Linked DNA regions of Homo sapiens: region 1 is linked to region 2. The links come from fine-mapping of genetic effects on gene expression. A gene starts in region 2. The other region holds a variant in brackets. All regions are shown on one strand. Distances are from middle to middle.

What was found. PIP is the estimated chance that this variant, and not a neighbour inherited with it, causes the effect. A credible set is the group of variants that fine-mapping cannot tell apart.
Region 1: its variant is the best candidate, but not a certain one, in a credible set for the expression of SPATA9 in subcutaneous fat (GTEx, PIP 0.52).

The regions. Positions count from the first base shown.
Region 1 is chr5:95,648,636-95,654,026 of GRCh38, reverse strand. RFESD (Rieske Fe-S domain containing) reads right to left here. Exons shown (of 6, transcript NM_001131066.2): 2 at 1,696-1,890; 3 at 813-910. The coding sequence starts at 1,755. It also overlaps a transcript of SPATA9 not described here. Among named protein-coding and RNA genes, the nearest start is that of RFESD, 4.6 kb to the right of the region's middle. The variant T/C (reference allele first, on the strand shown) is at 2,773.
Region 2 is chr5:95,680,126-95,685,516 of GRCh38, reverse strand. SPATA9 (spermatogenesis associated 9) reads left to right here and starts at 2,526. Exons shown (of 5, transcript NM_031952.4): 1 at 2,526-2,723; 2 at 2,901-2,989. The coding sequence starts at 2,663. It overlaps LOC105379090 (a long non-coding RNA gene), which reads right to left. Exons shown (of 2, transcript XR_948588.3): 2 at 744-922.

The DNA of each region.
Region 1 (5,391 bases), 31 kb after region 2:
TATTCACTAATTTGGTTCCAGCTTAATGGAGATAACCCTAAGAATGAATAGTTCGGACTTTTCAAGATTAATGGAGGCACTTTCTGTAGCTATATAAAACATTTATAAATACTAGATTATTATTATTTTGAGACAGAGTCTCACTCTGTCACCCAGGCTGGAGTGCAGTAGCACGATCTCAGCTCACTGCAACCTCCGCCTCCCAGGTTCAAGGGATTCTCCTGCCTTGGCCTCCCGAGTAGCTGCGATTACAGGAGCCCACCACCACACCTGGCTAATTTTTGTATTTTTAGTAGAGACAGGTTTCTCTGTGTTGGCCAGGCTGGTCTCAAACTCCTGACCTCAAGTAATCCACCCACCTCAGTCTCCCAAAGTGCTGGGATTACAGGCGTGAGCCACTGCGCCCGGCCATAAATACTGGATTATATTAAGTAGGTAGTCATTACTTTGCGTTAGAGACTCTTAAAGACTGCCAAAATTAGGGAGGATTCCTCAATCTGAGGCTAGAGTTGTATTAGATTCATTTCAAGGTCAAGAAGGAAATTTCAGAACTTGTAAAACATAGAGATTTAAGTTTCACTATCCCTTTATTTCCTATCAAATTCAACACTAAACAACATTCAGTTATCTGCATTGTTTTCAGCCTTCTGCTGAAAGCAGGATTCTTTGATTGTCTGAATAGTCTTCAGCCTCTTGGCTAAGGTGGTCCACTTGGTTTTGCCTGGAGTACACAGTTGGCTCTTACAGGCACAACCAGATAGCTATTACAGCAAGAGAAGGTGGGTATGAATGAAAACCTTTCATTTTCTTACCTCAGATAAAAACTGGTCACTGAGATGACAGCTGAGCTGAAATGCCCAAAATGCAAATGAACTAGACATGCCAACAGCTTGGGGAAGAGAATTCCATACTGAAAGAAGAGCAAATACAAAAGCCTGAAGGAAAGAAAAGTCTTGGTGAATGTGTTCCAGAAGACTGGAACATAATATGCAAGATTGGTAAACAGGCAGGAGCCAGGTTGTGCAGTGCTGTGTATGGATTTTACTCTAAGAGCAAAGGAAAGCCACTGAAGAGTATAAAGCAGGAAAGTGTGAATTGATTTCTTTTTGAAAGAATGCTCCCGGCTCTGTGGAGAATGGATTATAGCAAAACAACAATGGATGCCCAGAAATCAGAAAGCTAGGGGTCCATGAAAAAGGTGGTGGCTTGCCGCAGGGGGTTGATGCTGTAGGGGATAAAAAGTAATAACAACAGTAGCAGTAGTAGCTACAATTATATTGTGTTAACTATGTGCCAGGCACTATTCAAAGGCTACATTTATTTATTAACTCCTTTAATCCTCCATGTTACTAAAAAGGTATTATTTTAATTTTATAGTACAGAGAAGTTGGGTTGATGAACTTGAATGAAGATGCTACAGAAAAATAAATAAAGATGACTCCCAAGTTTTAGGTTTGTGCAGCTAGGTGAACTGTAGTGCCAAAGACTGTGAGGAGAAAGGCCAAGAAATGAATGGTATTTTTGCAGAATGGAAAATCAAGAGCTATATATATTTTACACATATTGAGTTTAAGGTATCTCAGAGACATCCAAGTAGAGATGTCAAGTCAACAACCAGATATATGAGACTAAAGTCGAGAATTTCTAGAGAGAAAAACTGGGGAGTTTCCAGGTCATAGAATTCTATGGACTCACTTGGAGAGGAAGTGTAGATAAGGAAGAAGGTCTAAGACAATTCCTGAAACACTTCAACATTTAGAGGTCAGGTGGAAGAGAGGTTGTAGAGAGGCAAGATCAGTAGAGTGTCCAATCTATTGCTAATCAAATGAAATTCATTCACAGCTTTCTTCTCTGTCTTATATTCTCCTTGAATTGCAAATAGGTGGTAACCTGGAAAAAAAAAGGCAGGCAATGAGGCCACATAAATTCCAATGCTGGTCACGTCTGTGTACTAAACAATAAATAATACATGAAGAAAACTCGAGGTTCTTAGGAAACTGTCCTGAAACTTTGGTTGTTCTATAAAGAGTTGTGCCTACCCTGTACCCTTTTCTCTTTGTAAGTTCACTTACTCCCTATACATCCACCCTCCTAGAAATCAAATACTGATTAGTATCCAAGTAAGAGCTTATATTCAGAATATAACCATTACTACTCTCTTTTCCCTGTATTTCTAAAGTTTGTCTCCTATTCCACTCTTTAATATCCTTTTGGCCAAATATAGAAATTAAAAGGTGGGAAAAAAATCAAGACTAAGAAATATCTCAATATTATTTTTAGGAACAGGCTTAAGGATTATAGGTTTGATCCTGCCCTTGAATCAAAATAATGACTCAGGCCAGTGGCTCACACCTGTAATCCCAGCACTTTGGGAGGCCTGGGTGGGAAAATCAATTGCCAAGAATTCAAGACCAGCCTAGGCAACATACTGAGACCCAGCTCTACATAAAAATGTTTTTAAAAAATTACCCAGGTGGGTTGGTACTTGCCTGTAGGGTTGGCTGCCTGGGAGGCTGAGGGAGGAGGATCACTTGAGCCCAGGAGTTTGAGGCTTCAGTGAGCTATGATCATACCACTGTACTCCAGCCTGGGCAACAGAGTGAGACCCTGTCTCTAAAAATATTTTTTTAAAAAAAGTTTGCTGTGGAATGCTCAAGATATTAAACACACACTTGTCTACAAATATTTAACAAAATTACAAATCAGTTGTCAACTTCAAATAAATATTCTAACTTTAGGAAGATATTTCATCATCCACACCTTCTTCAAATA[T/C]AGTAATACTGTAGCATTTCACAGGAGTTAAGCAACATGATAATGTACCTTTCCTTGATCAAAAGGAATCTGCATTGTAATTCCACTCAAGTCTTAGGTTACCATTTTACATAAAAACACATATATCCCACTTCTTTTTTTTTTTTTTTTTTTTTTTGAGACGGAGTCTCACTCTGTAGCCCAGGCTGGAGTGCAGTGGCTCCATCTGGGCTCACTGCAAGCTCCACCTCCTGGGTTCATGTCATTCTCCTGCCTCAGCTTCCCAAGTAGCTGGGACTACAGGCGCCCGCCACCACACCCGGATAATTTTTTGTATTTTTAGTAGAGATGGGGTTTCACCATGTTAGCCAGAATGGTCTCGATCTCCTGACCTCATGATCCGCCCGCCTCGGCCTCCCAATGTGCTGGGATTACAGGCGTGAGCCACCATGCCCGGCCCTATCCAACTTCTTTAAAGAAGGCATTTGTACCTCGGTGTACCTAGCTTAGAATGGTTACACACTATGGGCCAGTCGCTTCCCCAAAAAAGGGAAATTGTTTTCATGGAAGTGCCAAGTGACTTTAGGACTTCTGCAGATAATTTTCCTGATGGCTTCTCTAAATATTTATTTAATCCCATATAACTGATTGGAAGTTTTAAAATGTTAGCAGAAAAAGAGCATGGTTCATTTAAAAAGTAAGTTTATAAAACAAAAATTATTAAGAGTAAAATCTCTGTTAGTGTGTTAGGAGTGAGCTTTAGAAAAAGAGAATTTATAGGTCACTATTTTGAGATAAATAGTTCTGAGCCATGTGGAAGACAGATATCAGATATCATTGTAAGGCTGGGCTCCAAAATTGAGGTGTAGGTAGAGAGATATGTGTGTTCATGTTTGTGCATGTGTGCATGTGTGTTGATGGGGAGAGACAGGGGCTTTGAATTCAATGTATAAAAGAAGGCATTACACACATCAAACTTAGAAAATTATAGGGATGTCAAATTTGTACTCTGAAGTTTGCATTTTTAATTCTGCTCTAATTTTTTTTTAAAGGGGGGGATAGAAAAGTAATACATATGCTGTTTTTAAAAATTATCTCACAATAAAAAAGCAAAAGTTTATTATTTTAAAGCAAAGGCAAAGAGGACCATGGCCATGATTTTCTGGGTTAGCTATGGCTGATAGGAGGCAAGAATACTATCTCTGAATGGTCATCTGGTTTTATTTGATTTTGGCAGGTACTCAAAGAACACAAATTGATCAGGTGGTAGTATTTGCCTTCAGAGTTGGGCATGCAGCCTTCATCACATTTTGTGACAGAACAGAGGGGTAATAAGAAAAATGGGAACAGACAAAGGAATGAACTGAAATAAGGGGAAATAGGCTAAAGAAAAAGAAAAGAAAGAAATGTGGAATTTGCAATACATATAACTGACAAACTCTTGAGATTCAGAATATGTGAAGAACTCCTATAGGCCAGTAAAAAAAGAACAAATAATCATAGAAAAATGGGCAAGACATGAACAAACATTTCACAAATAAAGAAATCTGAATGGCCAGTATATGTAAAGACACTCAATCTCATTAGTAGGAAAACGCAAAGGAAATGCAAAGCAAGGCCATTAATGTGATACTATTTTCTATCCACCAGGCTGACAAAAAATTATACCAAGTATTAGTGAAAATATGGAACTGCTAGTGATAACATAAATTAGTGCTACCACAATTTGGCATTACCTAGTAAAGTTAAACATAATAATAATCCCACTTTGGGTATATGCCACAGAAATGCACACAGGTACACCAGGAAACATACACAAGAATAGTTATAACAGCAAAAAACAAAAACAACACAAAACCCATCAACAGTAGAATGGAAAATGTGTATGTTCATTCAATGGAATGCTGTACAGCAGTGAAAAATGTATCTCTACATCAAGTTGGCTTAATTTCAAAAAACATAATTGCAAGTGAAAAATTTAAAAAGGAATTCAGAGTATGTTTCCGTTTTTATCACAAAAGTGGCAAAACCAAACAGTATATTATTCATGGATATATGTACTATAGGGTAAATATATCAAGAAAAGCAAGGGGATAATAAACATTTCTTAAATGTCTAAAAGTATTTACTTTTTTCTTATAATTAAAATTATTCTTTTCAAGATTTAAGTTGTATCCTAATGTATATTTATGTAGCAAATGACCCCAAACCCAAGAAAAATGGAACAAAATTGCCCTTTCTATCCTCAGAGAATGTGCCTGTGCATAGGTCATGAATTAACTATTTGAGAATTTTGTACAGCTAATTTCAAAACTTGGCACCAAAGGAGGAAATAAATGAATAGTTGTTTTCCTCCAGGCCAAAAAAAAAAAAAAAAAAAAAAGCACTACTATCAAAAAGTAACGAAATACAAGAGATGTAGTATAATATCAAAAGTTAATTATGTTTTCCCAACTCCCAAATAAATGAGAACCAAATACAGGTCTTTCTCAAATTTGAGTCACTACAAACTTACAGTTTTTGCAAGGTTTGCCTCCAACCCGACAAACTGGTGAACTTTTACGGGACTGATAAAAAAGGAGCAGAGAAGACTGGGGCTAAATGATAAAGGTTTCAGAGAACTATGATTATGGCTGTGCA
Region 2 (5,391 bases):
TCTGTTTATTGGGTTGACATCCAAAGGAGGTTACTTCGAGTCCAAATCCTTGATCTAAGGCCAACAACAATTCTTAAAGAAGTCTCACATGGCAGATAGGTTTTGAGGATTGGTAGGTAATACATGAAGTGAGGAGTATGACTTCATCTCTGTTGAATTTGAAGTAGGTTTGAGGGAAGGATCCAATTAGGAAGGTTGTTAGGGTTCTAGCCAGTTTGGTGCAAATCAAAATGCTGAAGCCCAGGTGAATCGGGCAAGCCCAGCATTGAGTTTTACCCAAGTTTTGCAAAATTTCCAAAACCAAAAGGTCAGTGCATATTTAATGAAACCTGCCACTTATTGGGTATTTAATGTTCATCAAGTATTGTTTCCTTTTTAAAAGGTAAGAGGCTTATAGAACTTATGTAATTTGCCCACGGCAAAGCCTGGTAAGTGATAGAATTGAAACTCAAACCCAGGTCTGACTGACCCCCAGATTTCTATATTTCTATCACTAAGTTTATACTGTCTATATGTGATTATGTAAAATGTTCATTTTCTTCAAAGCTGTGTGCAAAACAAAAGTTCTGTTCTTCTGTATTAAAGCCTTTTAAGTACAGATAAATCTGTACAGCTGTCATAAAAATTATTTGGAGATATTTTTAATTGTTTCCTAGTTTATTTTATAATTATGGGGTACTCTATTATGAACTCTAAAGAATAACATAATGAAGAATTAACAAGAAAAAAACAGACATTGTGGGTTCTTTTGTCTAAGTTTATTATCTGAAATAACATAAGATGCATAAGATTATTGGCATAAGAAGATAATTAAACACAAACCAAAATATTATAAGGTCATAATGTAAGTGCTGCAGGGTGAGATTTTCTTACTCCATCACCGTCTGTCATTTTTCACCACTCTACTTCTGGGGAGAGGGCTCTTAAGTAAGAAAAGACAAAAAGGACGTTGTTAGCAAACACAAAGAGTTGCTTATGCTTTAAGTGCAGTAAACATTAGCCTGAGAAATGCTTTTCCTCTAGATTTGTTAATTTTATAGGATGCCTAGGAGGGAGAGGACTGATGAAAAGAGAAGAAAATTGGGTAAAACCAGTTGGGCAATGACATTGGAATCAGTGGATAAAAAGAACTAGGGGATGGTGGAAGGGAGGAGAATGGAGAACAGGGAGGAAGACCAGAAAGAGAAGGATCTGCCAGGTGTTCATCTGCAGTGGACGCTGATGACCAACTATCTTGCTAGGACAGATAAAGTATTTCATTATCTCATAGACTCCCAGCGTGTGTATTCATCATTGTCTAGTATGATTTTCTTTGTACCGATGGATTGCACTTTCCAAATGTTAAGGGCATAGTTATCTTAACCATGAGAGTCATGAGAGGCAAGCAGGTTCTATTTTGGTTAGGAGAGGTGAATGTGGTATGGCGGAGGGTGTTCTAAGGCAGATTGTGGACTAAGAACACCATGAGAGCTGGGGATTTTCAGGCTTCCCATGCTAGAGGAATCCTGGGATGAAGATTTCTCTTTCCCAAACTGTTCCCATGAAGACACTTTCAGCAGCCGTGGCTTTATGCTTGCTGAAGAAAGTGGTCTAGCTGCAATTAAATATGAGGGCTTCAAATTAGAATGGGATTCAGGTTAACCAACTATTTCATTCACACTAAAATATAACTAGGCTGTCGGCCGGGCGTGGTGGCTCACATCTGTAATCCCAGCACTTTGGGAGGCCGAGGCAGGCGGATCATGAGGTCAGGAGATGGAGACCATCCTAGCTAACACGGTGAAACCCCGTCTCTACTAAAAATGCAAAAAGTTAGCCAGGCGTGGTGGTGGGTGTCTGTAGTCCCAGCTACTCGGGAGGCTGAGACAGGAGAATGGTGTGAACCCGGGAGGCTGAGGTTGCAGTGAGCCAAGATCGCGCCACTGCACTCCAGCCTGGGCAACAGGGCAAGACTCCATCTCAAAAAACAAACAAACAAACAAACTATATATATATAAAACTAGGCAGTCAATCAAGTCTGCATGGTATCAAGTTCTTCCCATATTTGATCGGGGGAACTAATGGTCATCTGACATGTGAGGGTACTAGGAGGGTAAAAGATGAAGAAAAGAGATTGAGATTATAAAGCAGAGAAACCAAAGACTTTACAGTTTTGCCCGAGTTTGACCTAGTGATCCTCATTGGTGAAGCAAAAACAATCTATTCAGAAGTCTTTCTGAATTCACTGCTGGTGTTTCTTTTCTATTTGGCATCATATATAAAGCATTTCTTTTAAAGCACATGCCATTTTTTTTCAAAGGGACCTTTTGTTCTCAGATGATCCATTATTTGTGGTATCACTGCAGAATTTGGGACAAATTTCAACTTATATCATAGAACTCCTTAGTGTACTTTATTATTCAATCCCCTCACTCCTTCCCTTATGCCTCCAAACACACTCCTCTTCCTCTCACTGCCAGAGTGATGTCAGAAGATTCTGTAGCAGGTTCTCGGAAGCCTATTGTACAGTAACAAAGAATTCCAGCAGTGAGCTGTGAGTTCTGTCCTTGCTGGCTTTCCCAAGTGGAAGGCTACCCTCATCTTTCACTAATGGCAGACTAGGACAAGCATTACCCAGGCCTGCAAGCTTGTTAAGGACTAGGAACCCAAGCAAGAACTCACCATGCCAATCAAACCTGTTGGGTGGATATGTGGGCAGGTGTTGAAGAACTTTTCTGGAAGAAGTATACACAATCTTGTTGTAAAGGGCGTATGGGTGTGGGAACAATTGGGAATAAGATCCCCTAGAGTTCCTTTACTTTCCGAGTCATCTAGGAATTTGATCAAGTGTTTCATGTTCTTTTGAAACATTTAGGGGATGTTTTCAAAGTTTTCTTTTTCCTAACCTCTTTTTGTCTTAGTCGAGGGGATCCAGAAAGCAATCATGGACCTTGTAGATGAGTTTAAAGATGAATTTCCCACCATCCTAAGATTATCACAGTCTAATCAGGTAATGTGATTTTATAACCTTTAAAAGGAATAGAAAAAATATATTCTATTTTTAGTATCATACCCATTATTTAATGCTTGATTTTGAGATCAGTGATCAAAACTTTAGAAAACACTAATTTTGCCTCAGAAAAACAAATTTCAAATATTACTCATTAAGAGGGGTCTTTGGGAAGCAGAGAGATTGTGGACCAAGAAGTGAGGTAGATTGAGAATTAAGTTTAAAGACATTAACTATGTCATTAGGGTAAACACCTGGCAGTCTCTCAACACTACAATTGCAATGTAAAATCAGAAAAATACCTAGATACACTTTAGCAAAAATCTATGTCAAATCAGTGCAAAACCTTGAGATAAATTGTAACAATGGAAAGATAAATACAACATGGATGTGTGTTTAATAAGGAAAGAAAACAGTAGTATCAATTTAAATAAGGTATACATGTATATTTTTTAAACCTCTGTTCCAAAAAGGATTTGAAACAGATAAAATATTGGGAGTGAAAGAGGAGGGAGGTATATATTTTGAAGAGACATAAAGTCAGGAAAAAGTAACAACTTGTTTAGGGAACACATGTAACCTAATTTACTCAAAGGCACACAGCTCTTAATGGAAAAATGTGGTTCGGTCATTTTGATCATAGTTGGAATAGAATATGCTGTGAAGGTACATGGTACAGGAACAATCCACTTATCCAGAAGTCAGACTCTTGACAATGTCAAACATGAGGTATATAACCAAAACCTGGCAGTTAACAAAAAGCACTCTGATTAACACAGTAATCACAAAGTATACATATTTCATTCCAAAGGAGGGATATTAGAGCTAACTTTAACCACGCCTGCAGACAACCAGCCATCAGACATTTAGTAAACACCTCACTATTGCTTGGGACTGGAGAGAGGAAATACAGAGATAAACACGACGTGATCCTTTCCGCTAATGAGCTTAATCTAATGGAGATAGAGTTGTAAAGGAGTAATTGCATTAGAATATGGTCAGTGTTACATCTCTGTATGTAATTTAGAGGAGTGAATGACTCTACTGAGGAAGGTCAAAGAAGGCTTCATGGAGGAAGCATGCTTTTAAGTTGGGTCCCAATGGATGAATAGTAGTTTTCAAGGTAAAGAAAAGGGTGGGATCAGTGGGTAGGGGCAGGGAAGCATATTCCACTGGCAGTGGGGGTTAGGCCAAAAAGTAGGAAACAGCATAGCATGTTTCCAAAATGTCAAATAAATATAAATTACAGGCATGTAGGATAGAAGGGTTGAGATAGGAAATAGTAGAAAACGGGGTGGAGGTCTTTGTATGCCATGTGAAAAAGACTGGACTTTCCCTTATAGGTAACACAGATATCAGCCACAGAAAGGTTTTGGGCTTGGAAATGACATTCAGTTTGCACAACAAAAATACTTTTTTAGTGGTAATGAGATCCGAATGGAGGCAGAGCTTCTAGGAAGATTTTGTTGCAAATGACAGCTAAGAACAAGGACATTAACATTGGAAATAGAATGGGTTGAGCACAAGAGATATTTAGCATACTTTGAAACTGACAGTGTGGGATGAGAGATAATGTGTAAAGGTTGAGGAAGATTCTGGATTTCGTGGGTGGCTAGAAGAATAGTGATCCCGTTAACTAGGACCAAAGACAAGATGAGGAAGAGCAGCTTTGGAGATAATGAGTTTGATTGGATCACAGTTTAAGGGGTCATGCCACATCCTGTCCAAGCCTTGGAGTTGAGTTATAAATTGCATATGTAGGTTGGAAGCTCAAGAGAAGCCCGGCTGAAGATGTATATTTGGGAATCATCAGTGTATAGTGTGTTGTTATAGTGTATAGTTAAACCATGTCTTTAACTAACTGTAGTGTACATTTAAACCAAAATGGCAATCATCACTGCTCAAGAAGATTGTGTAGTAATATTAGGGCATAGGATAGAACCCCCGACAATGCCATTGTTTAAAGGGTTAGCAGGGCATCAGAGAAAAGAAGAGAATGAAGAGAATGAAATTCTATGAAAGCCATTGAAGTGGAGAGAAAAAGGAGAGAGGAATTAGCAGCAGTCAGAATCCTCAAAGATGTCAAGTATGGGATACATTTTTTAAAGTTATTTTGCATGTCAGTAAAAATTTAGCCAACACTAAGTGGAAAAAATTTTAGTTACCCAGAAAATTTACTTACGTGGAACCCCTCATTCACCAATAATGGTTGCTGTGACTTAAACTCTTATTTAGCAAAAATAATGTTCTGTTCTGAATAGAAGGTAATTGTTATATATGCAGTTGATTCAAATTACTGAGCCTATACATTTCTAAAAATACGTTAACTGGGCCAGGCGCGGTGGCTCAGGCCTGTAATCCCAGCACTTTGGGAGGCCGAGGCAGGCGGATCACAAGGTCAG